Homo sapiens: one gene and its partners. The protein of the gene in region 4 purifies or fractionates together with the protein of the main gene of each other region. This does not show direct contact. Each region holds a gene or a part of one and is shown on either strand. Other genes may lie near its edges.

Region 1 (4,901 bases), on a different chromosome or scaffold from region 4:
CACATGATTAAGTCCAGGCATGCTCTGGGAGTCATGTGATTGCCATGTAAGCTACACAGTTGGCACCAGGGCAGAATGTTCCCCCACCAAGTGGGTATAATTTGGATTTATTTATTTATTTATTTTTGAGACAGTCTCACTCCATCACCGAGGCTGGAGAGCAGTGGTGCCATCTTGGCTCACTGCAACCTCTGCCTCCTGGGTTCAAGTGACTGTCCTGCCTCAGCCTCCTGAGTAGCTGGGATTATAGGCACACACCACCATACCCAGCTAATTTTTGTATTTTTAGTAGAGGTGGGGTTTCGCTAAGTTGGCCAGGCTGGTCTTGAACTCCTGACCCCAAGTGATCCACACATCAGCCTCCAAAAAGACTGAAATTACAGGAGCGAGCAACCACGCCCGGCTGTCTGTTTTTAATTTTTTATTCATTTATTTTTTCAAGTCCCATTATGCCCCAGAATATAATTTATTATTCAAGGGCAGAGCTGGGCGTATAGATGCTTATTTTCCAGTCTGCTATCACTGAACTAGATATGAAAGCTACTTACTGCATATGATCTCGAAACCATCCCAGAAATCCCGAACTTTCACATCGGAAATTATAGCACAGTTCCTGCAGTTCACCAAGTCTACATCCTGGTCTCCAAATTCCTGGCTAAAGGCTTCTGGCTTCCAGAGCTCAGACTTGAGCTTTTTATGTACCCCCGAAACCAGCACTGGCTGTGGAAACAAAAATATCCCAATCAGAGCAATCTAGGAAAAACTTCCAGCTCTAGGGCTGAGACAGAATAGGAGGGTTTCCTGAGGAGGGCCTCCTCTTCTCCAGGAAGCTCTACTGTTCTTTCCTAGTTGTATAATCCATGGATTTCCACATGTCAACTAAAGTGAAAGGAAATGCTTCTACTCCATTGTTATGCTTCATTCTCACCCTGGGGAAATCACTTCTGTTGCCCTAATACCTACCATTGTTTTAAGGTGAAAGGACAAAAATCTGACAAGTCCAACTTTGAGAACACTTCCTCATATTGAAAATGACAATGCCATGAGCTCCCCTTCCTCAAGCACCTGCTAAAGTTTTTAAACTAGGGAGTGTTATCACACTATCAAAAAACTTGTGTGGCCTTAAAACATTTGCCTAGAAAAGTACTACCTACCTCCAACCCCTTCTCTGCCCCATCTTAAAATCACACTTAAGGATTTTTCTCTAAAGATATCAATGCCAGATCACCACCTAACAGAAATTTCAACTGCCTTTTTAAGAACACAGAACTATACAGCTTAGAAACAAGAGGATGCAAAGTGTGTTTTTAGTAATCTCCTTGCTTTTATTTATTTATTATTTATTTATTTTTGAGGTGGAATCTTGCTCTGTAGCCCAGGCTGGAATGTAGTGGTATGATCTTGGCTCACCGCACCCTCTGCTTCCCGGGTAAAGTGATTCTCCTGCCTCACCCTCTCAAGCAGCTGGGATTACAGGCACCCACCACCATGCCCAGCTAATTTTTTTTGTATTTTTAGTAGAGACAGGATTTCACCATGTTGGCCAAACTCCTGACCTCAGATGATGCGCCTGCCTTGGCCTCCCAAAGTGCTGAGATTACAGGCGTGAGCTATAGTGCCTGGCCATCTCCTTGCTTTTAAAAATCCAAGACAACTCGAAGTAGCAAGGCTATTACAATAACCTCACTATGTCTAAATCTCCCTGGCAAAAAGAGAGACCTGGAATTGTCCAGGTATCTGTGGTAGGCAGGCAGAGAATTGGCCCTTGGAACGACTTATTCTTGCTTACCTGACCTTGCTTCCAACACTCCCGGAAGATCTTCCAATTGTTTTTGTTGCTGGGGTCATGGAGACACAGAAGCCTCCCATCACAAAGCCAGGAGTGAGAAGTATGGGGATCTAGCACATTTAACCCCATCACCATCTCCTTCACTTCCTTCTGGGTATCAGTCAAGTTGCAGGCCCGCTTTGAAGCATCTGAGGTTTTCTTATTTTCTACCACTGAGGCAATGATGTGGTCAAGAAAGTTGGGTAGGCTGGCCTTGCTCTTCACTCCCTGCCAGACACAAATCCACCAGGTAAGCTTGACTGAGGCACCATGAGAACGGCATTCAAAAAACTGTCTCACAATTGTATTCACAAGGAGTTCTGACCTGTCTGATTAAATTCTACAAAAATTATTAAAATGTCTTTTACAACTGGAAGGGGGATAATAAGTCAACATCTTAAATTCTTTTATCCTTCATATTTTACCTTAACATTTAGGAAAGAAAAGTATAGAAAGATCCCTTTTGCCTCGAGAGATCTGAGACCTAAGAAATACCTTTGGCATCAGCCATTCAGTATACAAAGCACACATGCATGTAGACTGTAGGGATCATCAAATGCTGTAACTGAGTGTAAAAAGGTCACTCAGTTTGAGGGTTCTAAATTTTTCCTAACCAGCATGCCCAAGGGATACAATACTTCAATTAAGTAACTGAAGTGACTTATCAAGGCAATGGTTTTCTACCAGGGAGTACCTCAATGAAGGGTGTAGCAGAGTGTCCAAGAGGAAGTACATTCTGAAAGCAGTCTCCTACTCTCCAATTTTTTCCTCACTACCATCCCACTGAGAATCACTCACCTGTTTCAGCTGATGGGAAAGCTCAGGCCCAGAGATGAAAGTGACATACCTAAGGTCACAGAACTGAAGGTAGGGAAGCTTTTATAAACTGGATAATCCTATGCTTACAGTATTACTAATCCCTATCTCTATAAAGTATGTATAATTATGTAACATCATGGGAGAATTAGAAAAAGAACTGGCAGTATGATGAACAAGTATACATAAAACGGTACCCAAAGTAATTGTTTTGTTTGCTTTTTAAAATTTACTTATCCAGGCTGGGCACGGTGGCTCATGCCTGTTAATCCCAGCACTTTGGGAGGCCAAGGCAGGTGGATTACCTGAGGTCAGGAGTTCGAGACCAGCCTGGCCAACATGGTGGCCAACCCTGTCTCTACTAAAAATACAAAAATTATCCCAGTGTGGTGGCACGTGCCTGTAGTCCCAGCTACTTGCTCGGGAGGCTAAGGCAGGAGATTTGCTTGAACCTGGGAAGTGGAGGCTGCAGTGAGCTGAGATCGTGCCACTGCACTCCAGCTTGGGCAACAGAGTGAGACTGTCTCAAAAAAAAAAGTTACTTATCCAAAAGAGAAACAAATAACCCAAATTGTATAGAGGGCTCAGTCACCCACAGTTCATCACGTTTCAGCCATTAGTCATAAAACCCAAGAAGAAATGTATTTATGTATTCGCTTGAAATGATTTGCAGGACATATAAACTAAAAATCAGAATAGCAAGGTGTAGAACATTTAGGGGAAAAACATACATATGATAATATCTCGAGAAACACTGGAGACTTCTAGAAAGGGAAACAGGTGGTTGGGAGGCAAGGGTGCAAAGGAAACTTTTCAGTCGAAACCTTTTTTATTTTATTTATTTTTTTGAGATGGATCTCCCTCTGTCACCCAGGCTGGAGTGCGGTGGTGCGATCTTGGCTCACTGCAACTTCTGCCTCCCAGGTTCAGGCGATTCTCCTGCCTCAACCTCCCGAGTAGCTGGGATTATAAGCATGTGCCATCATGCCTGGCTAATTTTTGTAGTTTTTTAGAAAGAGTCAGGATTTTGCTACGTTGGTCAGGTTAGTCTCGAACTCCTGACCTCAAGTGATCTGTCCGCCTCAGCCTCCCAAAGTGCTGGGATTACAGGTGTGAGCCACTGTGCCCAGCCTCTTTTCTATCTTTTAGATATTGTACCTTATGAATTCATTCATTCAATAAATGCTTACTAAACATGACTGGATCAAACACCATGGCACTAGGGATATATTATAGAACAGTCAAAAATGCCTTTAGGAGAGGCAAGAAACAGAAAATCAAACATGTAATAGGTCAGATGGTAATGAGTGCTGTGAAAAAAACAAAGCAGGGAAAATCGGTATGTGCAGAACTGACAGTGTGATGGAATTTTAAAAAGGGTGATGTATGAAGAAAGGGTTACTGAAGGTTTAGGTGAGGGAGCTGATGATGAAGCAAGTGAGGTAGTTACATGGGAAAGAAATTCTAGGTGGAGGAAATAACAAGTGCAAAGGCCCTGAAGAGGGAGCATGCCAGGCCATGTTCAAAGAACAGCAAGAAGGTGGGTGTGGCTGGAACGGAGTGAACAGAACAGAGAGTGGTAGTTGAAGACAGGGAGGTGAGAGCAAGATGAACAGATAGGGCTATGGCCTCATAGTCCAGGTGCGTGACTCTACTCATCTGTAAGCACTACAAGGACTCTGCTCATCTTACGAGAGAAAAAGGAAGCCCTTGAAGGATTTCAGGCAGAGGTTAAGATATGATCTGACTTATATTTTATTATTTTTCTCCTTTTCTTTTATTTTTCTTTATTTCTTAATAAAAAGCCTCCCATGGGATGACATATTTTAAAAGAACCTCTCTAGCTACTGTGTTGAAAATACACTGTAGACTGTAAAGGGCAGAAACAAGGGGACCTGTAAGGAATTTATTGCAAAAACTTAGGCAAGATGTTGGCTCAGAACAGAGGAAGCAACAGAGCTGATGAAAAATGAGTGGATTCTGAATATAGTTTGAAGATCAAATTTGAAAGGATTTGCTAACAAATTAGATATGAAAGGTAAGACAGGCGAGTCCCAAATGATTCTAAGATTTCTGGTGCAAGCAATCACAAGGGCAGAGATGCCACCAACCAGTAGGGGAAAACTAAGGAGAAGCAAGCTTATGGTCAGAAGATCAGGAGTTCAGGCTTAGGCGCATTAAAGGTTTGAGACATCTATTAGATATCCAAGAGAATACAATACAAATGTACTGTCCAGGTTAAAAAAAAATTAATGCC
Region 2 (4,901 bases), on a different chromosome or scaffold from region 4:
TGGTAGCTCAATAAATTATTTTTTGTTTTTCTTGTTGCTCATGCTGGAGTGCAATGGCACCATCTCGGCTCACTGCAACCTCTGTGTCCCGGGTTCAAGCGATTCTCCTACCTCAGCCTCCCAAGTAGCTGGGATTACAGGCATGTGCCACCATGCCTGGCTAATTTTGTATTTTTAGTAGAGAGGGAGTTTCTCCATGTTGGCCAGGCTGGTCTCAAACTCCCGACCTCAGGTGATCTGCCCACCTCAGCCTCCCAAAGTGCTGGGATTACAGGCGTGAGCCAGCACGCTGGCCAGCTCAACAAATTCTTATGACTTCTGGAGTTAAGAGTTCTTAAAATTCTGTTCTTAAGACTTATTTCTGACTAAATTTTTCTCATAGAAAGCACATCTGAGAAAATACATACTGATTGATACGTTAACTTCATATCAGATGCCTAGTAGGATTGTGATGACTCCTTGGTTGTCAAATGTTTCCACTCCTAAACCTTCATCTTCATAGGGTTTCTTGGAAATCATTCTCAATAAACTGTGAACATTTCCCTCAGATGCCCAGCTGTTGGAGAGAGAAGAATACAAGTTAACTCTCATTTAGACCACAGTCAGTGTTGAGTAGTTTTTACAGATTAACAGTAGTTGATGTTGTTATAGAGTATGCTTATCCCTATTAAGTGAGTAAATAGAGGCTCAACCGCTACAAGAAATGAATGCTTTATGTAATTGGCAAATTGATAGGTGTCATCTTATTAGAGAAGAACCATAGATATGAGTATCAGACTCTGGCCATCCTTGTGGGTTTTTTTTGGTTTTATTTATCTTTTTTCCTAAACCATCTAAATAAGTGATGATAATATCATGCCCCTTTATCAGTGATTATTTCCTAAGGACAAGGACATTTTCTTACATCACCACAATGCAATTACCAAATTCAGATATTTTAACATTGATATAATGCTATTACCTAATTAACAGTACACATTCAAATTTTTAACAAGTATCTCCATATTATTCTTTATATCTTTTTTTTCTTTTCCTAACCCAGGATCCATTCCAGGGCTATGCGTTTATTCACATCTCTTTAGTCTCCATTAATCTGGAATAATCCTCAAATTTTGTCTCATCTTGATATTTTTAAAGAGTACATACTAGTTGTTTTGTAGATGTTTCCCAGTTTTGATTTCTTTTGTTTCCTTGTGATAAGATTCAGATTATGCATTTATAGTGGGAATAGCACAGAGAATGTTGCATCTTCTGAGTCTCTTTATTATTTTTCCTTATAATTAATAAGTAATTTGTGGGAATTTGAGACTATTTAAATATCCTTTTCCTTATATTTCACCTGCTAGTTTTAGTTCCTGTGGATAATTCTAACTCTGTCATTTCTGTTATATTTATTTATTGTTGTTCTGTAAGGAAGAACATTTCCCTTCTCCTCCATATGTTTGTTTATTTATGACAGTGTAAACTCGTGGATTCTTATTCTGATCAGTGGATATACTACATTCCCATCACTATTTAGGCTCCATTTGTCCCAAATTTGGCCAATGAGAACCACTTCAACCTATTGGCTAGCTATTTTGAAATGTTTGAAATCCACAAAAGAATAACAAGCTTGAATGTCGTACTTCGGTGGAATTTAACATTCTGAAAAACAGCTGTGACATAATGCCACAGCCTCACTCTGGCTTATTGATCAGAGATGACAGGAACAATGCTATTTAGCAGTGCTTTGCAAGTTTAACTAGGTCTGTGTGCTTTATTTAGCAGATTTGTATTCTTTATGGAGAAGAGTCAAAAATATATCTTGAGTTCTGTATTTATGTGGAACAGATTCATGAGTTTTCTTTGGTTAGAGGGCATAACCTCTGCAATACATTATGACTATAGTGACAGGTAGAACAGCATATTATCAGGAGGCGGATTTGTGGTAGCCGTCTACCAAGAAGAGCAGTCATGGCAGCTGTGTACCTGACCAGGTAGCTGTAGGTCGACTGCAGTAAGGACTATTTCTAAAAAAGTATAAAACATTTAGGCTGGGTGTGGTGGCTCACACCTGTAATCCCAGCACTTTGGGAGGCCGAGGCAGGCGGATCACTTGAGGCCAGGAATTCAAGACCAGCCTGGCCAACATGGCGAAACCCCATCTCTACTAAAAATACAAAAATTAGCCAGATGTGGTGGCGGGTACCTGTAGTCCCAGCTACTCGGAAGGCTGAGGCAGGGGAATTGCTTGAACCCGGGAAGTGGAGTTTGCAGTGAGCCAAGATCATGCCACTGCACTCCAGCCTGGGCGACATAGTGAGACTCTGTCTCAAAAACAAACAAACTAAAAAGGATAAAACATTTTCTAATCTTGAGGATTCACCGCTAAGAGTATATATTGTGAGGTTTGGCATTAAAAACCTGCACAGATTGAGTCATTTTTTTTTTTTTTAAGGGAGACTTAAAGGCCAGGCATGTGGTAATCTCAACACTTTGGTAGGTAGCCAGGAGTGGTAGTGCATATGCCTGTGATCCTAGCTTTAGCTACTGGGGCAGCTGAGGCCAAAGGATCTCTTGAGCCCAGGAGGTTGAGGCTGTAGTGAGTCATGTTCATGCCACTGCACTCCAGCCTGTGTGATAGTGAGATACTCTCTCAAATAAAATGAGACTCATAAAAGTTACTGTTCACTTAAAAATATTTATGACTGAACTCTGCTTGGTAGCTTTTCATTTTTATAACCTAAGCTACATTTCTAAATAGACTTAAATTTTGTACTTTGTTCTTCCTTTTTTTAAAATAGAAAGTGACTTCAGTGATGATTTTAGTGATGATTTTGTAGAAACTCGGCGAAGGCGGTCAAGGAGAAATCAGAAAAGACAAATTAACTACAAAGAAGACTCAGAAAGTGACGGTTCCCAGAAGAGTTTGCGACGTGGTAAAGAAATAAGGCGAGTACACAAGCGAAGACTTTCCAGCTCAGAGAGTGAAGGTAAGGCATAGGTCTCCTATATATAGAAGTTTGGACAGGGCAAAATAGACATTATAAAGTGAACTCAGGATTGTGATTCTGTACCATTCTTTGAAACTCATATAACCAGGCCAGGCATGGTGGCTCACGCCTGTAATCCCGGCAGTTTGGGAGGCCAGGGCATGCAGATCACTTGAGGCCAGGAGTTCAAGACCAGCCTGTCCAACATGGTGAGACCTTGTCTCTACTAAAAATAAAAAAATTAGCCTGTGTGGTGATACGCGCCTGTAATCTTAGCTACTCAGGAGGTTGAGGCAGGAGAATTGCTTGAACCTGGGAGGCGGAGATTGCAGTGAGCCAAGGTTGTGCCACTGCACTCCACCCTGGGTGACAGAGCAAGACTGTGTCTCAAAAAAAAAAAAAAAAAATCCATATAACCAGTAGTATCTTTGAGATAAAACCTATAATCTTGTGCCTACCATAGTTTAAATAAAAGATACTCGATAAGAGGCTAATTTTTAAGATCTCCATTGTAATTTAAATTTTCATTGAAACTAGAAAAGTCTCAGAAAATTGTGATCTGATCAAGATTATTCTACTTCTTTTTCTTACTCCCTTATTCATGGCCCTCATTTTGAAATAACCTCTTATGTCCTTAATAGCTAAAAGGTTTCAAATAAAAGTGCCTACTGTCTCTTTCACCTTGACTATGATTTCAGTTGGAAACCGAAATCATTATTTCCTAATAGCTATAACTGTGCCCCCTACCAGTAGTACAAGACAAGCTCTAAAATATGAATTTCTTACATCCATTTAGTCTTTTTTGTTTTACTTAAATTATATATATATAGTGTATATATATATACACACATATATACATATAAATATATATATATATATATATATATATATATATATATATATTTTTTTTTTTTTTTTTTTTTTTTTTTTTTTTTGGTGACAGAGTCTTACTCTGTCACCCAGGCTGGAGTGCAGTGGTGTGATCTTGGCTCACTGCAACCTCCGCCTCCCAAGTTCAAACGATTCTCCTGGCTCAGCCTCCCAATAGCTAGGATTTTAGGCATGTGCCACCAAGCCTGGCTAATTTTTGTATTTTTAGTAGAGATGGGGTTTCACCATGTTGGCCAAGCTAGTCTCGAACTCCTGACCTCAGGTTATCCGCCCACCTTGGCCTCCCAAAGTGCTGGGATTACAGGCGTGAGCCACCGCGCCCGGCTTTATGGCCTGTTTTGAAGATTGTTTTGCTTTCATAGATTAAACATGAATTTAAGTTTGAGCCCAAGACAAAAGAGAAAGGGAAAAAAAATGTTTGGATGTGGGATGCTAAAGAAGGGAAGTGAACATCTTTTTCGAATGTGTACTTACCTTCATGTGTCACAGAAACAAACATAAATTGCATTAGTTAAGCCATTAAATATGAATATTTATTAAGCTAGGCCCTATTCCAAGCACTGGAATATAACAGCAAACAAAATAGCTCTTATGAAACTCTTATTTTAGTTGGGAAGAAGGTGACAATAAACAAGATAGATAAGTAGAATATATGATATATTAGAAATGAGTGCTTTGGAAAAAAATAAAGGAGAAAAGGGGGTTGGGAAAGTAGTTGAATTTCAGATAATATACTAAGGAAATCCTCACTAAGAAAACATTTGAGTGAAGACCTGAAAGAAATGTTGTGTGTGAGTCATGCACTTATCTAAAAGAAGAATGATACAGGCAGATGGAACAATAAATATGAAGGCCTTGAGGTATGTTTGTGCTTGTCATGTTCAGCAAACAGAAGGGAGTGCAGGGTTGTTGGAGCAGAATGAGTGAAGGCAGACATAATGAGATGAAGCAAAGAAGTCAGTGGGGGCCAGTCAGCAAACGAGAGCCCACCTGCTTACATAAATAAAAAAGCAAGGTTTTTGTTTTTGTTTTTGAGAC
Region 3 (4,901 bases), on a different chromosome or scaffold from region 4:
TAAAAAAAGAAAATCCAGTCGCTACAAACAGTTGTAAAAGTGAAAAGTTACCAGAAGATCTTACTGTTAAGTCTGAGAAGGACAAAAGCTTTGAAGGGGGGGTGAATGATAGCACTTGTCTTCTGTGTGATGATTGTCCAGGAGATATTAATGCACTTCCAGAATTAAAGCACTATGACCTAAAGCAGCCTACTCAGCCTCCTCCACTCCCTGCAGCAGAAGCTGAGAAGCCTGAGTCCTCTGTTTCATCAGCTACTGGAGATGGCAATTTGTCTCCTAGTCAGCCACCTTTAAAGAACCTCTTGTCTCTCCTAAAAGCATATTATGCTTTGAATGCACAACCAAGTGCAGAAGAGCTCTCAAAAATTGCTGATTCAGTAAACCTACCACTGGATGTAGTAAAAAAGTGGTTTGAAAAGATGCAAGCTGGACAGATTTCAGTGCAGTCTTCTGAACCATCTTCTCCTGAACCAGGCAAAGTAAATATCCCTGCCAAGAACAATGATCAGCCTCAATCTGCAAATGCAAATGAACCCCAGGACAGCACAGTAAATCTACAAAGTCCTTTGAAGATGACTAACTCCCCAGTTTTACCAGTGGGATCAACCACCAATGGTTCCAGAAGTAGTACACCATCCCCATCACCTCTAAACCTTTCCTCATCCAGAAATACACAGGGTTACTTGTACACAGCTGAGGGTGCACAAGAAGAGCCACAAGTAGAACCTCTTGATCTTTCACTACCAAAGCAACAGGGAGAATTATTAGAAAGGTCAACTATCACTAGTGTTTACCAGAACAGTGTTTATTCTGTCCAGGAAGAACCCTTGAACTTGTCTTGCGCAAAAAAGGAGCCACAAAAGGACAGTTGTGTTACAGACTCAGAACCAGTTGTAAATGTAATCCCACCAAGTGCCAACCCCATAAATATCGCTATACCTACAGTCACTGCCCAGTTACCCACAATCGTGGCCATTGCTGACCAGAACAGTGTTCCATGCTTAAGAGCGCTAGCTGCCAATAAGCAAACGATTCTGATTCCCCAGGTGGCATACACCTACTCAACTACGGTCAGCCCTGCAGTCCAAGAACCACCCTTGAAAGTGATCCAGCCAAATGGAAATCAGGTAAAAAATAACCTCCATCCTGAACCTGGCTAGTAATATGCTATTTGACTAATTTCAATTAACTTTGTCTAATAAATATCAGTCCCGTAGAGCCAACTAGATTATTACAAACTGTCATTTTTAAAAGGATCAATGTTTGCTTTAACTTTTCTGGCATGATGTCTTCAGTTGGTTGTTTGCTAATCCAGGGTATTGTTACCAGCTTAAAGTTTGAAATGCTATTCTACTGAAAGATGATTTTTAAGTCCCAGCTAAAAACCTGTTTGAAGTTAGAAATCAAAAAACAAAATTGAAATACTCGCTAATTGGGTTTCTGTTTTTATAGCTAAATTCCTAAAATTAGTAATAGTTTCTGCCTTGATTATGGTCATTAATTAATGAAAATATGTTCCCATTCACAGGTTCATACCAGGCAAACTTATCTATCACTTTTATATACTAATACATCTGTTTATAAAAGGTTTTAATTAAATAAACAGGAATGAAGTATACAAAGAACGCATCTTGTGAATTTACTGATCATTTTATGAACTGTGCATAAACAGTGTTCAGTCATAATGTATATGAGGAAGTGTGGCTGTGAACCTAAAAATACATATGCATTTTCCTCCTTAACTATCACAGTGTTTACCACAACAGTGTTTATTCTGTCCAGGAAGAACCCTTGAACTGGTCTTACCCCAAAATCCACAATAGTTTTGGATAGAGCTATTGTATGCCTCATTGTCCAGACTTTTTCCATGTCACTGATGTTGATGTTTTCCCATTTTTTCCATCAATTTCTGATGGAATCAAATGAATACTAGAGACAAATTTGATATTTTATGCAAATATTTTCTATAAGTATAATAATTTCAATATCCTGCTCAAACTTGTATTTGCTGCTTTTGTTTTCCCTTAAATATTGCTATTGATTGGGTTTCCTGTAATTGTGATAACTCTTGAAAAAAAGTTCTTACGTGATCATTGAATTCCTCTAAATTTTTAGTGTACAGAACACTTTGCATGCCTTTGAATAGAAAAAGAGCCATCCTTAGCATTTCATAGACTCACGTGTCACGTGACTAGATCAAGTAGCAGTGAAAGTAGAATCAAGTTACTTCAGCACCAGGGCCACTCACAAATGACAGGGACAAATGGCTGCACCTCTCTTGCCTCATAGAGCCATAAGAAATGTTGTGAAAAACCTTCAACTTTTAGAAAATGTGTGGGTTTGAGGCAATGGCGTGGAACACTCTAGATAAGGTAGGAAGATCTTAGGGGACCCAGTTCCACAACAGGCTCCCTGCAGGGTTATTTGGCTTACATAAGAACGTGCTGCCCAAAATTATCTCCATGAGACTGCCTGGAGTTTCTAAAGGTTCATTTTGATTAGCAATTATTTCTGTTAAAAAGATAGACCCTCCTGCATTGTTTTTCCATCTTGCTCCTTAGACAAGTGGTAGAGCACACCTCTCTCTTTTCAAGGAGACCGTGGAGGTTAAAGAACCCTGAAGTTCTGGAGGATACAATTGAAAGACCAGGTTTTAAAAATAGAATGTTAGCTTTTGCTTAGTGAAACCCAGAATGAGAAAAATGAAGGCAAAAGATGCAGTTAGTAATGAGCGATTAATTAGCAAACTAATAAGTTAAAACCTTCTGCAAATTTCTCGTAAAGTAATGATTCACATGAAACTAGGTAAACTCTGTTACTATATATTTTACATGCTTTCTTTTCGGTGTCCTTGCTTTCTTTCCAGTACCAGTTGAGTATATGTCTTTGCTATGGTTTTGACTGTGTTATCCCCAACCTCACTCTTGTCTTTGTCATCTCCACCTGTGATCTGGCCCCACCCTTGGGGCACATGTGCAGTGAAGATCAGTGTGCTTGCTTTGGTCAAGTCCTTGAAAGTATAAAAGTATAAGTTAAAGTAGTTCTTTATCTCATGCTTTTATGTATATCTCTTGTTTATCTTTTAATGTTAAATTACATTTTCTCACACCTTTCTCCCTCTAGGATGAAAGACAAGATACTAGCTCAGAAGGAGTATCAAATGTAGAGGATCAGAATGACTCTGATTCTACACCGCCCAAAAAGAAAATGCGGAAGACAGAAAATGGAATGTATGCTTGTGATTTGTGTGACAAGATATTCCAAAAGAGTAGTTCATTATTGAGACATAAATATGAACACACAGGTATGTCAGTGAACACAAACATAAAGTGTCCATGATATGATATACTGGAAGATGCAAAATTAAAAACTAAAGTTTTAGAATTTTCTTTCTTTTTTTTTTTTTTTATTTTGTTTTGAGACAAGGTCTGGCTCTAGTCACCCAGGCTGGAGTGCAGTGGCACGCAATCTCAATCTCGGCTCACTGCAACCTCCGCCTCCCGGGCTCAAGCCATCCTTTCATCTCAGCCTCCTGAGTAGCTGGGACTATAGGCACATACCACCACACCTGGCCAATTTTGATATAGACGGGTTTTGCCATGTTGCCCAGGCTGGTCTTGAACTAATGAGCTCGAGCCATCTACCCACCTCGGCCTCCCAAAGTGCTGGTATTACAGGCATGAGCCACCACGCTTGACCCAGAATTAATTTTCTTATTTTTTACTTATCTGATCTGGCCATTTTCACCTGTTTGCCCACTTCTACCTAGTACTTAAGGTCTGTGCCTTTCTTTTGGTTTTTTGCTTCATCTGTTTTTTTGTTTTTTTCATGACTTATTTCCTTTAAGCTGACACAGCATTTATTCTGTCCGCATTCATTTAATGCAAGCTTATGCTATATTAATAAAAACATAGTACATAGTACCCATTAATAAAAAATATGAGACCAGTGGGCTAAAGTCATAGGGAGACAGGATCTGGCTTCATAAAAGAAAAAGCTGCTTCATAAGCATGCGGCAAGCTGTCCTGGCAAGTCAAGATCTTTTGTTTTAAGTAAGAAGTTCTGCCTAAGAGGTTGGACTAGAAGATTCTAAGATCCTGTAATTCTGAGATCCTGTAATTCTGCCACAAAATATGCCTCCTTAGGTTGACTCAGGGATGGCAAACTATAGCTCACAGGCCAAATGTGAGCATACGCATGTTTTTCTATGAGGTAAGAATGGTAGTTTTTGATTTTGTTTTTACATTTTTAAATGATTGGAAAAGATGAAAAGAATATTTATGACTGATGAAAATTATGTGAAAGTCAAATATCAGCATCCGTAAATAAAATTAGTTGGAAGACAGCATCGCCTATTCATTTACATTTTGTCTATGTCAGCTTTCATGCTGTTCTACAATGGCAGGATTGAGAAGCTACTACAGAGACCATTTGGCCTGCAAAGCCTTTAATACTCACTACCCTTTACAGAAAATAGTTGCCAACTCCTGGCCTATTTCATTCCTTCCATCAGTGAAGTACTGATAAATTTTAACACCTGGTTCTCTGAAGGGTGGGGAAGCCCTGATTTGTAGTGTTTGCAGCTTTTTGTGGCATAAATACTCCCATCATGGTGGATTTCGAGCTTGAATGTGATGTCAGCTTGCAGAATTCCTGAAAATTTAGCAGTAGACTCTCTCCAGCCAGTACAAACTGGCTCCAGCACACTCCTGTGTCTCTCTCTAACATGGGTTGCTGTAGAAGGGGCTGGGTTTATCCTGAGCTCTTTAATCCCCTACCTGCTCTTCCCTGCCCCCACTACCAGCCATTATGACTACAGTATCCATATTTATCTTTCATATTCTTAACTGTTTCAGTGTATTTTTTACTCTTGTGAGAAAAGATAGAATTGTTTTTCCTTC
Region 4 (5,583 bases):
CCACTCCAATACCGGGATGTGCCACATCTTCAAATTGCTTGGGCTGTGACCCTGGGCCGGGCTGCACCAGCACCCATTTGTGTCTGACATTGTGCTGGGCAGCCCCACTGTGCTGCCACCCTCCTCAACCTGCTCCAGTCCAGCACCCTGCTTGGGCCACTGTGGAACATACTACACAAACGCCCACTTTGCTTGACACACCTGATGGCCTTAGCACGGAATTGTTCAGGAGGGTACCATGAAGGACGGAAGGAAGAGCCCCATAGAAGTGTAATGGATCCTTACATTATATAGTCCAGCCTCCAACCCAAGGTTCACCCTTGTCCATTCTGCACTGGGGCAGCAACACCAATTACTTTGCTCCACCGACCTACCAAGATTCAGATAGAATCATTGGATTGACTATTAATAGTTTTCTGCTGATAGTTGCTGCAAGCAACTGCAGCTTGCTCCTTAGCCTTCTACTGACTTGCTGTATTTAGCATATTTTATCAAATTTTGCAACCTCCTCTCCTCATTGCCCTCACTTGAGTTTTTGAGGTTCCTGTTTGTGGACAAGACTTACCAGATGTATGAAGCTGGTTATATAACTGATTGGTCAGCAAATATAATGAGGACGGACCCTGCGCCCACCACCGTGTACCTGTGTAAACACCATACTGCGCAAAGTCCACCAGCCTTCCAGGGAGAACATGCTGCACTGTGGGCGACACTGCCTCCGTTCCAGCAGCAATGTAAGCGGAGTCTGGGCTGACGATGGACGTGTGGATAGCCTGTATGTGTATATCTGTGCTCATGCTTCTAACACACATCCACCCTATTATGGACACGTTTATACATCTTCATGCCATGGTATTTTGTACCTTACTGCAGACCCTACCAACGCTTCAGTGAGGTTCTGGCAGCTTTGGGTTTTTGGAGGCTATTTGTCTGTTGCTGCGGGGACGGCTTTCAGAAAGAATGATCGCTTTGGGGGAATTGTACCCTGCTTTCCTGCGCAAATTCCAGCGGCTGGAGTTTGAGGCCCCTAGCAGATAACCCTTCTGCCCCTACCCCCATGAGTCTACATACAAGAAATACATCTCTAAAGAGGTAATAAGCCTTTCCGGTGTGCATGTTACAGATCTCTTAACCTTATATATACACAGATGGTCCATCACTTACCGTGGTTTCACTTACGATGTTTCGACTTCATGATGGGTTCACTGGGACTTGACCCCATTTTTTTTTTTTTTTTTTAGACGGAGTCTTGCTCTTGTCGATCTCTGCTCACTGCAACCTCCGCTTCTTGGGTTCAAGTTATTCTCCTGCCTCAGCCTCTTAAGTAGCTGGGATTAAGCGCCACCACGCCGAGCTAATTTTTGTACTTTTAGTAGAGATGGGGTTTCACTATGTTGGTCAGGCTGGTCTCGAACTCCTGACCTCAGGTGATCCGCCTGCCTCAGCATCCCAAAGTGCTGGGATTACAGGTGTGAGCCACCGCGCCCCCTGACCCCTTCTTAAGTGGAGAAATATCTGTATCTGCATGCCCACAGGGGAGCTCCTAATTACACCATGTGCCGCATCCAAGCCACAGGCCGGTGATGTGAAGACACCCGATCCAAGAAATACAATAGCATTAAGAAAGAAAAAATGCTGCCATGGATACTACCAAACGCCAAATGACTCTAACACGTAGGCTAATTGCAAGGACCTTAAAATCGCAAATAAAAAGGCGCCTGTAGGTCGGGCGCGGTGGCCCACACCTGTAATCCCAGCACTTTAGGAGGCGGGCGGATCACCTGAGACCAGCCTGGCCAGCATGGCGGAACCCCATCGCTACTAAAATACAAAAATTAGCCAGGAGTGGTGGCGCATGCCTGTAATCCCAGCTACTCCGGAGCCTGAGGCAGGAGAATCGCTTGAACCCAGGAGGCGGAGTTTGCAGTGAACCGAGACAGCGCAACCGCACTCCAGCCTGGACGACAGAATGAGACTCCGTCTCAAAAAAAAAAAAAAAAAAAAAAAGCGAGGGCTGGAAGTCTGGAGCAGGTGCGCGGCTGCAACGGCAGCCGCGGGAAGCTCGGGCCGGCAGGGTTTCCCCGCACGCTGGCGCCCAGCTCCCGGCGCGGAGGCCGCTGTAAGTTTCGCTTTCCATTCAGTGGAAAACGAAAGCTGGGCGGGGTGCCACGAGCGCGGGGCCAGACCAAGGCGGGCCCGGAGCGGAACTTCGGTCCCAGCTCGGTCCCCGGCTCAGTCCCGACGTGGAACTCAGCAGCGGAGGCTGGACGCTTGCATGGCGCTTGAGGCAAGTTCGGGGCTCATTTTGGAAGTTTTCTTTCTAGCACAGACATCCAACTCTGCTCCTATGCCAGTCAGATAATTAAGGAATTAAGTAATAATTGTGCTCTGCAAATTATGATAGTGATCTGTATTTACTACGTGCATATATTTTGGGCCAGTGAATTTTTTTCTAAGCTAATATAGTTATTTGGACTTTTGACATGACTTTGTGTTTAATTAAAACAAAAAAAGAAATTGCAGAAGTGTTGTAAGCTTGTAAAAAAATTCAAACAATGCAGACAAATGTGTCTCGCAGTCTTCCACTCAGTATCATTTTTGTTTGTACCTTATCAGAAATGTTTCTATGTACAAGTCTTTAAAATCATTTCGAACTTGCTTTGTCCACTGAGTATATTATGGACATCTTTTCATGGCAGGACATATAGATGTGTTAATGGCATTAAAAATAAAACAAAAAACTGATTCGGCCGGGTACGGTGGCTCACGCCTGTAATCCCAGCACTTTGGGAGATCGAGGAGGGAGGATCACCTGAGGTCAGGAGTTACAGACATGGAGAAACCCCGTCTCTACTAAAAATACAAAATTAGCCTGGCGTGGTGGCGCATGCCTGTAATCCCAGCTACTCGGGAGGCTGAGGCAGGAGAATCGCTTGAACCCGGGAGCGGAGGTTGCGGTGAGCCGAGATCGCACCGTTGCACTCCAGCCTGGGCGACAGAGCGAAACTGTCTCAAACAAACAAACAAAAAAACCTGATACATGGTATGGGAAGTACATTGTTTAAACAATGCATGGAGATTTAGGTTGTTTCCAGTTTTTACTGGCACAGATACGGCAATGAATATAATTTTATGTATACATTCATACAAATATATCGGTGGAAAATTCCTAGAAGTGGAATGGCTGGGTCAGTGGGCATTCATATTGAGAAATTGGAAGGATGTTGTCAAACTCTGCAAATCAGAGTATTTTAGTCTTAACCTCTCTTCTTCACACCCTTTTCCTTGGAAGAAAGCTAAATTTAGACTTTTAAACACAAAACTCCATTTTGAGACCCCTGAAAATCTGGGTTCAAAGTGTTTGAAAATTAAAGCAGAGGCTTTAATTTGTACTTATTTAGGTATAATTTGTACTTTAAAGTTGTTCCAGAAAACAAGGCAAATACTGAAAAGCATTTCATCTGAAGTTTCTTTCTGGTATTGAACAGAGTTGGATGGAGAGTGAATGCAGGTTACCGATGTGTTCGCAGGAACAAAACGGGAGGGAGAGTAACACAGGTGCACGGCTTCATATTGATTTATCAAAGAACTTGCTTTTGGACTGTTAAAAAATGTGTTGCACAGTTCTGACACTTTTACACAATGATGAGCTTACAAAGGGGAAAATGCTTAACATAAACATAGTTTCAAAGAAGGTAAGTCCTAGTTTTTCCACGAGCTGTTTTTTTTTTTGAGAGAGAGTAGTCCCAAAATTTCCCTATTATGTGGTTTTTCATCCAAAGTGTTGTAATCCGTGTGTTCTAACCCGCATATTACGATTACTCAAGAAATGCAAAATAGGCCGGGCGCGGTGGCTCACGCCTGTAATCCCAGCAATTTGGGAGGCCGAGGCAGGTGGATCACGAGGTCAGGAGATCAAGACCATCCTAGCTAACACGGTGCAAACCCATCTACTAAAAATAAAAAATATTAGCTGGGCGTGGCGGCAGGCGCCTGTAGTCCCAACTACTCGGGAGGCTGAGGCAGGAGAATGGCGTGAACCTGGGAGGCGGAGCTTGCAGTGAGCCAAGATCCGGCCACTGCACTCCAGCCTGGGCGACAGAGGGAGACTCCGTCTCAAAAATAAAAATAAAAATAAAAAAAGAAAAAAGAAATGCAAAATAATGTGAACACGTCATCGAGACTGCGGTCTACAATTGTGGTTGCCATGATGGGGTGGGTCGGAAGACACCGAGGCTGCTTGAATCATGTTCCTGGCAGGTTAATTTTGTTCCTTTTAGGGCATCTAAATGTTGGAGTTGGCTTTCCTGGCAGAGAGTCCAGTTGTGAGTGGAGTATTGGGTGGAGGCCCCACCCTCCCCAGGTTTTCTGCAGCTTGTTCCTGGCTCTTCTGGGGCTTCTCTGAGGACCCCGATTGGTCCTGGGGCTTCTTTAGTGGTGGGCCTGGGCCAGTTCCTTCCGTTGCTCACCTCTCCCCGAAGCTTAAGGATAACATTTCGGGAAGATCATGAGAGAACGTGAACCAAAAAAAAAAAAAAAAATTCAGGTAGGGTGGGAGCTAAGTTAGTTTAGTATTTGGGATTTTTGTTTTGTTTTGTTTGAGACAGAGTCTCAAACAAAGACCCCGCGCCTGGCCTGGGGGTCTTTTTTTGAGTCAGCAGTTGAGTTTGAAAATCCCCTTCCTTGGAATCCGCCCAGGCTGTTTTCTCTGGTGGATGCTTATTGCCCCTGCTAACTTCAGCTGCGGTCTCTCTGCTCGCCTTGCCCTCCCCATCCTCCTTAGACCTTTTAAGCTTCACTTTCCTTTCCTTGCTGCCCCGCCTCCCTGTCTCCCCAGTGTGATCTACCCTGAAAGGCTGCTGTATTTTGTTTCCCTTTGGGACCGAGCCTGCTCAAATGATCTGCTCCATGAGGTTTTACTGCTATATCCTACTGAAGTATCTGGGAGGTCTTGGCGGAGAAGAGGACAACATCTTGGAAAATGCAGCCTGGAACCTCTCTGCTCTCTTTCATCAGCTTTCCCTCAATGATGAGCTCAAAATCCTCTTTCTTGCTGATGGAATTGTCTGCTGTCATCATTTCAGTTGAGTCCTCCTAGGCTGGGCCTTGTAAGAAGAACAACTGTTTATAACTATTGAAAGTCAATATTTACTAAGAAAAAGAGGTTGTTGTTATCTGAGCCATCCAACATGAATTTAAGAATATATTCCAGGCTGGGCGCGGTGGCTCATGCCTGTAATCCCAGCACTTTGGGAGGCCGAGATGGGTGGATCACCTGAGGTCAGGAGTTCAAGACCAGCCTGGCCAACATGGTGAAACCCCGTCTCTACTAAAAATACAAAAATTAGCCATGCGTGGTGGCACATGCCTGTAGTTCCAACTATTTGGGACACTAAGGCAGGGGAAGTGCTTGAACTCGGGAGGCAGAGGTTGCAGTGAGCTGAGATTGTACCACTGCACTCCAGCCTGGGTAAAAAGAGTGAAATTCCATCTCAAAAAAAAAAAAGGAGACAGGGTCTTGCCCTGTTGCCCAGGCTGGAGTGCCGTGGCACGATCATAACTCACTGTGGCCTCAAATTCCTG
Region 5 (4,901 bases), on a different chromosome or scaffold from region 4:
AGCCTGGGAGACAGAGTGAGACTCTGTCTCAAAAATAATAATAATTTTTTTAAAAAGAATAAGCCAAGAGATTGTGGAATCTTCAATTCTAAAGAATATAAATCATTTATGACTAATATAAAATCCAGTTCAAGTGGTGTAAAGTTGACTTTGCTATTAGAAAAGATGTCTCCATGATTAGAATTTATAATGAGGTGTGCTAATAGGTGAAATGACAATCCCCAGTGCATGCTACTCCGTCCACCTGTTAGCCTTCTAACAGGGTTTAAGATTAATGAAGATTTCTGGATGGAAATCTTCATGAGAGATGGTAAATCAAGATTCACTGAGATGAAATAAGGGGTATTGTTTTTAGGTTTTGTGATGGGTTGAGCAGAGGTCGGCATAGTCACTTGTTTGATTTGATGCACATTGGTGGAGTTTTAAATGCACAGTGTGGAAGGGAATGAGCACTTATCAGAACAGAAGGAAATGTGTGGTTAAACGGTTTCAGTTGTAACTAAAGACTATTTCCCTTGGTCCAAATAGGAGGAGAAATGGAACCTTTTGTATTTTGGTTATTTTCCAATATAAGTAGAAATTGGTTCATTGTGGTTTATTGCAGCCCTTAGCAGAAATGATTGGGTTCAGTAGTGAAGGGGAATGACACAAATATGTACCAGGAAAGCATAAATTTTTATTTATTTTTTATTTTTTTGAGACAGAGTCTTGCTCAGTCTACCAGGCTAGAGTGCAGTGGTGCGACCTCAGCTCACTGCAACCTCTGCCTCCCAGGTTCAAGCGATTATCCTGCATCAGCCTCCCAAGGAGCTGAGACTACAGGCACACACACCCACGCCCAGTTAATTTTTGTTATTTCTTGTAGAGACAGGGTTTCATCATGTTGTCCCAGCTGATCTTGAACTCATGACCTCCTGCCTTGGCCTCCTAAGGGGCTAGGATTACAGGCATGAGCTGCTGCGGCCAGCCAGAGGGTATAAATTCTATAAGTACTATTTTAAAGGTATCTCAGAGGTAATTTTTTTATCATGTTTATAATTATTGGCAGTCAGTTATTGTTATTAAACATCTCTAAAAACAAAAAGAATCCAAGAGTCTGAAGAGACTACTGAAATGAGTTTCAAAAAAAAGATGCTTCCAGCTTTTTCCTCAAAATGAGAAACTGTTTTACAGATTTTTATATAATTAAACAGGTAATAAATAATGCCAGATTTTAGCTCACAAAGCACTGGATTTCCCAAAGGAAATACATTTGGTGCAGGTAAATGAAAAGCCTCGTTAATAAATATATATTTGATAATCTGCAGGTTTGAAAACTCACTGAAGAATTCCCACTTCCTCTGCATTAAAAATACCTTGTTCAAGGCAGTAAATATTAACCTATGCTGGTTTATTCAGAAACTCATGTTAAACAAGGTAGAGAAGACCTAAAATTATGTGTTTTGTTTGTTTATTTGTTTTTGAGACAGAGTCTAGCTTTGTCACCCAGGCTGGAGTGCAGTGGCACGATCTCAGTTTACTGCAACCTCTGCCTCCTGGGTTCAAGCGATTCTCCTGTCTCAGCCTCCCAAGTACCTGGGATTACAGGCACCCGCCACCATGCCCAGCTAATTTTTGTATTTTTAGTAGAGACGGGGTTTCACTTTGTTGTCCAGGCTGGTCTCGAACTTCTGATCTTGTGATCCACCCGCCTCAGCCTCCCAAAGTGCTGGGATTACAAGCGTGAGCCACCGTGCCCAGCCCTAAAATTATGTTTTTAAAAGTAACTATTAGGTTAGTGTGGTATTAGGAGTGGGAAGATTGTAGAAACTGTAATAAATTTCTCTTATATTGTTTATCTCTATCACAATAAAATATTCACCTCAGGATGATAGAATTAACACCGTCCTTTCTGGGTGGATAGTTACTCTTGGGAACAATTGTATTTTGAGCCAATATGAGAATTAATTTGGTGATCAAAAATGATCTAAATTTGGGTATGATGTATACCTAAAGCAATTTTTATTCTAGAGTTATTTATTTACTTGAAAAAGAATGGTGCAGAAATGGGTTTTTGTTTTTTGTTGTTGTTTTTTATTGTTGTTGTTTCAGAAGAAAAGTTAATAAAAGTGTAAAACAGAAGTTTTCTTTTTTTTCTCTCTCTTTTTTTTGTTTGAGACAAGTCTCACTCTGTCACCCAGGCTGGAGTGCAGTGGCACTATCTCGGCTCACTGCAATCTCTGCCTCCCGAGTTCAAGTGATTCTCTTGCCTCAGCCTCCCGAGTAGCTGGGATTATAGCTGTGCGCTACCATGCCTGGCTAATTTTTGTTATGTTCAGTAGAGATGGGGTTTTGCCATGTTGGCCAGGCTGGTCTGAAACTCCTGACTTCAAGTGATCCGCCCAACTTGGCCTCCCAAAGTGCCGGGATTACAGGCATCAGCCACCGCGCCTAGCCAGGATGTAGGAATTTTCTCATGAAGCTGAAGGTTCACCAGATGAGAGATACTTTTGGTTTCAGGAATCTTGAAGATCTTTTTAAAATTTATTGGTACTTTTTTAAACTGCAGTGCATAAAGTATAGTGAACATATTTAATTTGTCAGTGACTTGAGATGTTACCATATCCTAGGATACTTATTTTCGATATTTCTCTAATGTGTAAGTAGATATACTTGTTGGATGTGATACAGTATGAAGCCTGGCTAATTTTGTCATCTAAAGGTATTATGTGTAAGGAATAAACACATTTCCATTTATTAAGAATTCAAGATGCTTGGTTAAGTTTATTCATTTTTTTATTTTTATTTTTTTACTTTTTAGAGGTGAGGTCTCTCTGTGTTGCCCAGGCAGGTCTTGAACTCCTGGCCTCAAATGATCCTCACACCTTGGCCTCCCAAAGTACTGGGATAACAGGCATTAGCCACTGGTGCCTAGCCTTTTTGTCTTAGTTGATTTTGTTATAGTATTTAAGAATTTCAACAGGGAGTTGAAATAAGTAGATTTTGGGTTAACTTACCAGTTTCTAGATAAATAATTGATACATGTAGTCAAACCCTGTGACCTTAAAACTTTTCTACTATATTTAAAAGACTGATTCACCTTACTGTTGCCTATTGGGAAAAGTAAAAAATAAATAAATAAAAAACTGTGAAATAGCTTGAATTAAATTTCATAAGTCCCATATAAAGGATAGCAGTGTTTTGTTCCGAATTATTTATGGACACCTAAAGATAACCACATACTACTTAATGTGATATAATAGTAAATATTATACCAGTTAAAGTTCTTTGGTTAAAAGCAGTAGAAATCAACTCTGGCTAACAAGACAAAAAAATAAAAAGAAAAAAAGATTAATTATCAGGAATCTGTGAGATAGCTTATAAAACTGAGGGGAGTATCAACAGCCTGATCCTGCATGCTCCAGGAACCCACGTTGAGGGAAGCAGTGCATGCTCTCTTCAGAGGGTGGTGGCTTCCAATTGTTTTCCATCTTTCTACCCAACATTCAAAAATCAAAGTGTCTGGCCGGGCATGGTAGCTCACGCCTGTAATCCTAGCACTTTTGGAGGCAAAGGCTGGCAGATTGCCTGAGCTCAGGAGTTCAGCACCAGCCTGGGCAACATGGTGAAACCCCATCTCTACTAAAAATACAAAAAAAAAAAAAAAAATTAGCCAGGCATGATGGTGAGCGCCTGTAATCCCAGCTACTGGGGAGTCCGAGGTGGGAGAATTGCTTGAACCCGGGAGGCAGAGGTTGCAGTGAGCTGAGATTGTGCCACTGCATTCCAGCCTGGGGAGCACAGCGAAACTCCATCTCAATCAATCAGTCAATCATAATTTTATTCATCTTTTCTACAGAGTTTATATAAGTAAGTTTAATCTTTTTATTTTCATGTGTCTGATGGTTTTCAATTATTTTCATCCTTTTCTGTGTCTTAGGTATATTTGAAGGCTCCCATGATTCTGAATGGAGTCTGTGTTATCTGGAAAGGCTGGATTGATCTCCAAAGACTGGATGGTATGGGCTGTCTGGAGTTTGATGAGGAGCGAGCCCAGGTAGGGTAACATCAGGCTTTATTGAGCATGGTCCCTTTAGTCCCTAATCTTGCCTTTGCCTGGGGACCTATTTTACCCAATTTTTAAGAGTAAGTATAGAAAGTATTGTGTTGAAGCAATATTGAGGAATCCTGAAAATGTTGATACTCAAATTCTGATCCTGATTTTGGGAAAGTTTTTTCTTCAGCAGTTCTAAATTTCATGGGTTATTCGTATCTGCTCAGTGGGTGCTTCAAAGTCCAGCAAGTAGCTCTTTAAAATATTTATTCTTGATCTTTAGAACACTATGAATAGGGAAAAAAGAAAAAACTGTTCAAAATAAAATGTAGGAGCCGTGCTTTTGGAATGCTTGAGTGAGGAGCTCAACAAGTCCTCTCCCAAGAAAGCAATGATAAAACTTGACAAAAATTGTTTAAAAAAAAAAAAAAAAAGCTGGACGTGGTGGCTCACACCTGTAATCCCAGCACTTTGGGAGGCTGAGGCAGACGGATCACCTGAGACTTGAGGTCAGGATTTCGAGACCAGCCTGGCCATCATGATGAAACCCCATCTCTGCTAAAAATATAAAAATTAGCCAGGCATGGTGGTGCACACCTGTAATCCCAGCTACTTGGGAAGTTGAGGCACGAGAATCGCTCGAACCCAGGAGGCAGAGATTGCGGTGAGCCGAGATTGCGCTACTGCACTCCAGGCTGGGCAACAGAACAAAACTCTGTCTCAAAAACAACAACAACAACGAACAACACCCATTTAAGGCCTCATGGAAGCTATTGAATCTCAGTAAGATCAGTGACAGTCTGTGTCATTTTAGTCAGGAGCTGCTCCCATTCCCCAGCTCTGTGGTCCCTCAGGTTCTTCCCTGGGC
Region 6 (4,901 bases), on a different chromosome or scaffold from region 4:
TGGAGTGCAATGGCGTGATCTAGGCTCACTGCAACCTCCGCCTCCCAGGTTCGAGCAATCCTCCTGCCTCAGCCTCCCAAGTAGCTGGGACTACAGGCACACGCCGCCACGCCTGGCTAGTGTTTGCTCTTAAATACACAAAATGCACTGAACCAGCAAAAACAAAGTCCCAGGTCTGAGGAGCTCTGAGGATGATGCCTGTGATGGCCTCTGGCCAGCTCTCCAGGATACTGAGAGAGCAGGTCAGGGGAGGCCTTCTCCAGGCTGGGCAGTGGGAAGGCCCTCTGGACCGGGGGAGTGAGTATTCAGGGGACAAAGGCACTACCCGGGTCTGGAGCCGCCACGGAGCCAGGGCACAGCCTAGTTTGGGGGATTCCTCTGTCACTGGGGTAGGATCTCCCAACAAGAGGCGGCTTTATGTTCCACTCACGAAGAGGCCAGAGCTCTCAGATCTTCCCCAAAACCTAATCAGGCCTCTCACCAGCGTGTTGGAGGCCACTCCTGGCCATCATCTCCAACTCTTTACCCCAACCTGGCACCTTGTAGGGGGCTAGAAGGGTGAGGGGAGGTGTCTTTCACTTATGCTTAGGTCACTCTTAGAGGACTATCCTCAAACTTGAGGTGACAGGGAACTCTTCACGGGGGCAGGATTTGATGTTTTGTTTTTAGCCATGTTTGTCAATGACAATGTCAATTTCTAGTTCCAATTTGTACCCTTGTCTCATTTCTACATTAAAAACAAAAAACAATCATCTGTCATAAAAGTTCAGAGTAAGCTGGGTGTGGTGGCACATGACTTTAGTCCCAGCTACTTGGGGGGCTGAGGCAGGAGGGTCGCTTGAGCCCAGGAAAGTTCGAGTCCAAGCTGGGCAACAGAGCAAAACCTTGTCTCTTAAAAAAGAAAAAAAATAGAGTTCAGAATAGATAAAAGAGTTGTTATTCTAAGAAAATAGACTACTGAAGGAGAAAGGCTTTAATAATATTAAAAATAGGCAAGGTAATGCTTTTCATAGTATAGTAAGATTTGCCTAATACCATCTTATTTCTTTGATTAAAAGTTACTTAGCTTCAGCATGCGTGTACATTCAAAATACAAAATTAAAGCATGAGTTGTCATTAATTTGCAGAATTCTATGATTGAAGCCTCTAAATGAATTGTGCAGGAGAGGGAGTTTGTAAACAACTGACTACAGACATTCACATTGGGTCATCTTTAAAAAGCTGGACTCTGCTTTTGGATGCTTCTCGGAGGCGAGTTGGATTTTGGACTGAAGTACTGTCGTTCCATTCCTTTTTTTGAGGTGTTATGAGTGGGGCTATAACATCGCCATCCTATTAGGAAGAGAGAGAAAAACAGGCAATAGAGAAAAGCCAGTTTCCATCATCTTATTTCTGAGTGAAAGTCTCAAGTGCGCACATCCTCATCTTGCATATAGATTGCTTCTAGCTGTCCTCAATCCAGGGAAACTCCAAATTACATATGCCCTGTGCTTGGGGCAAATTAGAAACACTACAGTCTTACGCAGGAAGAGCCTTCATGAAAACAGCCACTGGCCTCTGCAGAGATGACTGGGAGCAGCATACCACTGCCCACCTCTATGGCCTCCTTCACACACCTTCACGGAGCACAAACTCTGTCCTGTTTTCCCAGGAGAAAGACGGGATGCACTGAACCCCTAGCTTCTCTCTCGCCTGGTCCCCTCTGCAATAAAAGGCCCAGGTCTACAAGATGGCAAAGAAGGGGAGGAAGAACAGTATGTACCTGCAGAATTTAAATTTTTCTCTGCATCAAAGCTCTAACGTTGGTCCCATCAGCATAGGCTCCAGCCAAAGAAGCTCCTCCACCCAAAATAAGGGAGAGATCCAAAGGGAGGCGATACAATGACGTGAAACCATAGAGGTAAGAAGCAAGGCCTCCTAATACTTGACTCTATGCTAAACTGTTCTGAACTTGTGGGTAGATCTTCTTTGGTTACAAGATGATGCACGATCTTGGAGAGCCTCTGTTGTACCAGGAATACAATGCTGGTGGGAGGATTCGTGCTCCTCATCTGCTTATTTGCTCTCAGATCCATTCTTCACTCTTCCTCTCCCTACTCTGTCTCACAGGAGCTACTCCGGTAAATTACATTTCTCAGCTCCCATGCCTGTTGGTTTCCAGTTAGATTTGGTCAGTGGGAGGCTCTGGTGGGAGACTGGAGGTGAGAAGAGGGCAGAGAAGTCAGGTTTTTTCTCTCCCTACCTCCTCTGGCACGAGCGGCAGTGGCAGTGACTATTCTGTGGTTCTAGCTTTTGCAGGTGGCCCCAGCTCCTGGACTCCCACCTGCTCCCTTGGTCTCTCCTATCCTAGAGGTGGTAGCAGCTTCCTGCTGTTGAATCACTGTCCTCTATGCTCATTTAGCTCTGCCAAAACTTTTGTATCTCACCCCCATGTTAAATTTTTTCTGTTGAACTACACTGGATCTGACTTGATAGAACTATTAAAAATAGTTTTTAAAAAATGTGTTATTATTTTTTTTTGAGATGGAATTTTGCTCTGTCACCCATGCTGGAGTGCAGTGGCACAATTTTAGCTCACTGCAACCTCCACCTCCAGGGTTCAAGCGATTCTCCCGCCTCAGCCTCCCAAGTAGCTGGGATTATAGGTGTGCATCACCATGGCTAATTTTTGTATTTTTAGTAGAGATGGGGTTTCACTATGTTGGCCAGGATGGTCTCGAACTCCTGACCTCAGTAAAGGCAATCATTTAGGCCAGGCGTGGTGGTTCATGCCTGTAATCCCAACACTTTGGGAGGCCAAAGCAGGTGGATCACTTGAGGTCGGGAGTTCAAGACCAGCCTGGGCAACATGGTGAGACCCCGTCTTTACTAAAAATACAAAAATTAGCCGGGCATGGTGGCACGTGCCTGTAGTCCCAGCTACTCAGGAGGCGGAGGCAGGAGAATCACTTCAACCCGGGAGGTGGAGGTTGCAGTGAGCTGAAACTGTGCCACTGCACTCCAGCCTGGGCAACAGAGCAAGACTCTGTCTCAAAAAAAAGTCATCCTATTGTCATGATACTTGTACTTAAAGGCCTATCTCAAAATCAACAGTATTTATTTGTCTTTAAACTCATCTCTATTTCTACCCAGCTTGCTTTCTTTCTTTCTTTTTTTGAGACAGCATCTTGCTCTATCAACCAGGCTGGAGTGTAGTGGTGTGATCATAGCTCATTGCAGCCTCAGACTCCTAGGCTCAAGCAATCCTCCCACCTCAACCTCCCAAAGTGCTAGGATTACAGATATGAGCCACCATGCCTAGCATATAGCCAACTTTTTAATTTCTACTCATTCTACTTTCAGTTCTAGTGAATTTTATAAATGTAAACAAATACGTCACTTTCCTGCTTAAAACCCTTCAGTGTCAATGCTCCCTACTGCTCTTGGCTGACAGGACTTTGATAAAGCCCCAGACACCTCCACACTCTATGCTCCTTCCTGAAATGCATCATGTTCTTTCTCATCTTCCGACCTAACCCTGTGGTGTCTATGCCTCAACCCCTCCCCTACCACCACCTCCTGCTGCCAGCCCTTAACCCAGACAACTCCTCACTCAACCTTCAGGTCTCAGTTTATAAGCCCTTCTTTAAATAAGCTTTTCCTGACCAACCAAGACCAGCTAAATCCTCCTTGTTTTTCCTCTTCTAAGACTGTGTACTCACCCTATACCCAAAGTACTTACCATGCTCCTATAATTATTAACTTATGGAGAAAAATTAATAATAATTATTATTATCCCCAACTAGATTATTATCCCCAACCTGAATGGGATCCATGGGTTATTAGGAACTGTCTATCTTAGGTACTGTTCCAGGTACCTAACACAGGGCATGGCAAAATACTCACTCCGTGAGTGAATGTACCAAATTTATAGTAGTTATCACGACACAGCCAAACTTTAATAGCCTCTCTTGACTCTCTATTTCCAGACTCTCCAAGTTCCAGTCTATCTGCAGCTAGAGTTTTCAGTGATTTAGTTTCAGTGATTTAGTTTCACAGTACCTAGGACAGACATACAGTTGGCCCTCTGCATCCATGGGCAGATTCAACCAACTGTAGATAGAAAATATGAAGGGGGAAAAATGGATGGCTGTGTCTATACTAAGCATGTACAGAATTTCTTCTTGTCATGATTCCCTAAACAATACAGTATTAACAACTATTTACATAGATTTACATTGTAGTAGGTTTTATAAGTAATCTAGAGATATTTAAAGTATAAAGGAGGATATGTATAGGTCATATGCAAACACTATACCATTTTATATAAGGGACTTGAGCATCTGTGGATTTTTCTTTTCTTTTCTTTTCTTTTTGAGACAGAGTCTCGCTCTGTCACCCAGGCTGGAGTGCAGTCGCCGGCTAATTTTTTGTATTTTTAGTAGAGACGGGGTTTCACAGTATTAGCCAGGATAGTCTTGATCTCCTGACCTCGTGATCCGCCCACCTCGGCCTCCCAAAAGTGCTGGGATTACAGGCATGAGCCACCGCGCCCAGCCTATCCATGGATTTTTCTATCTGTGGGGTCTGTGGGGGTCCTGGAACTAGTTCCCCACAGACACCAAGGGACAATTCTACTCTTATTCCCACGGGTGTCACTCTAGTTGGAGATGACACACATTCAGGTAGATCATACAGTGCATGGTAATTCTTGAATATGCTCAATGATTCCCTCCCCACTGTACAGAGAAAAAAATCTCTTAGCCAATTATCCAAGGTTCTCAATAATCTAGTCCACTCTTCCCATTTAACCTCTCCACACTTAACAGTAAGAACTTTCTGGCTGGGCATGGTGGCTCACACCTGTAATCCCAGCACTTTGGGGGGCCGAGGTGGGCGGATCACGAGGTCAGGAGATAGAG

Evidence for each region.
Region 1: the proteins of USP18 (region 4) and KDM3B purify together in Homo sapiens (affinity purification with mass spectrometry; one large-scale study listed by BioGRID and IntAct). This does not show direct contact.
Region 2: the proteins of USP18 (region 4) and RSF1 purify together in Homo sapiens (affinity purification with mass spectrometry, with the first as the bait; one study listed by BioGRID). This does not show direct contact.
Region 3: the proteins of USP18 (region 4) and ZEB1 purify together in Homo sapiens (affinity purification with western blotting; one study listed by BioGRID). This does not show direct contact.
Region 5: the proteins of USP18 (region 4) and CBFB purify together in Homo sapiens (affinity purification with mass spectrometry, with the first as the bait; one study listed by BioGRID). This does not show direct contact.
Region 6: the proteins of USP18 (region 4) and SAMHD1 purify together in Homo sapiens (affinity purification with western blotting; one study listed by BioGRID). This does not show direct contact.

The regions. Positions count from the first base shown.
Region 1 is NC_000005.10:138,421,230-138,426,130, reverse strand, and holds part of KDM3B (lysine-specific demethylase 3B), read right to left. Parts: intron 2,057-4,901; coding exon 1,790-2,056; intron 721-1,789; coding exon 549-720; intron 1-548. UniProt on the Homo sapiens protein: Histone demethylase that specifically demethylates 'Lys-9' of histone H3, thereby playing a central role in histone code. Demethylation of Lys residue generates formaldehyde and succinate. May have tumor suppressor activity.
Region 2 is NC_000011.10:77,670,113-77,675,013, reverse strand, and holds part of RSF1 (remodeling and spacing factor 1), read left to right. Parts: intron 1-2,783; coding exon 2,784-2,972; intron 2,973-4,901. UniProt on the Homo sapiens protein: Regulatory subunit of the ATP-dependent RSF-1 and RSF-5 ISWI chromatin-remodeling complexes, which form ordered nucleosome arrays on chromatin and facilitate access to DNA during DNA-templated processes such as DNA replication, transcription, and repair.
Region 3 is NC_000010.11:31,520,810-31,525,710, forward strand, and holds part of ZEB1 (zinc finger E-box-binding homeobox 1), read left to right. Parts: coding exon 1-1,127; intron 1,128-3,123; coding exon 3,124-3,304; intron 3,305-4,901. UniProt on the Homo sapiens protein: Acts as a transcriptional repressor. Inhibits interleukin-2 (IL-2) gene expression. Enhances or represses the promoter activity of the ATP1A1 gene depending on the quantity of cDNA and on the cell type.
Region 4 is NC_000022.11:18,147,936-18,153,518, forward strand, and holds the start of USP18 (ubl carboxyl-terminal hydrolase 18), read left to right. Parts: upstream 1-2,234; 5' UTR 2,235-2,287; intron 2,288-5,583. UniProt on the Homo sapiens protein: Interferon-induced ISG15-specific protease that plays a crucial role for maintaining a proper balance of ISG15-conjugated proteins in cells. Regulates protein ISGylation by efficiently cleaving ISG15 conjugates linked via isopeptide bonds.
Region 5 is NC_000016.10:67,062,763-67,067,663, forward strand, and holds part of CBFB (core-binding factor subunit beta), read left to right. Parts: intron 1-3,919; coding exon 3,920-4,036; intron 4,037-4,901. UniProt on the Homo sapiens protein: Forms the heterodimeric complex core-binding factor (CBF) with RUNX family proteins (RUNX1, RUNX2, and RUNX3).
Region 6 is NC_000020.11:36,891,735-36,896,635, forward strand, and holds part of SAMHD1 (deoxynucleoside triphosphate triphosphohydrolase SAMHD1), read right to left. Parts: intron 2,502-4,901; exon of another isoform or gene 2,196-2,501; coding exon of another isoform or gene 2,172-2,195; exon of another isoform or gene 1,333-2,171; coding exon 1,198-1,332; 3' UTR 1-1,197.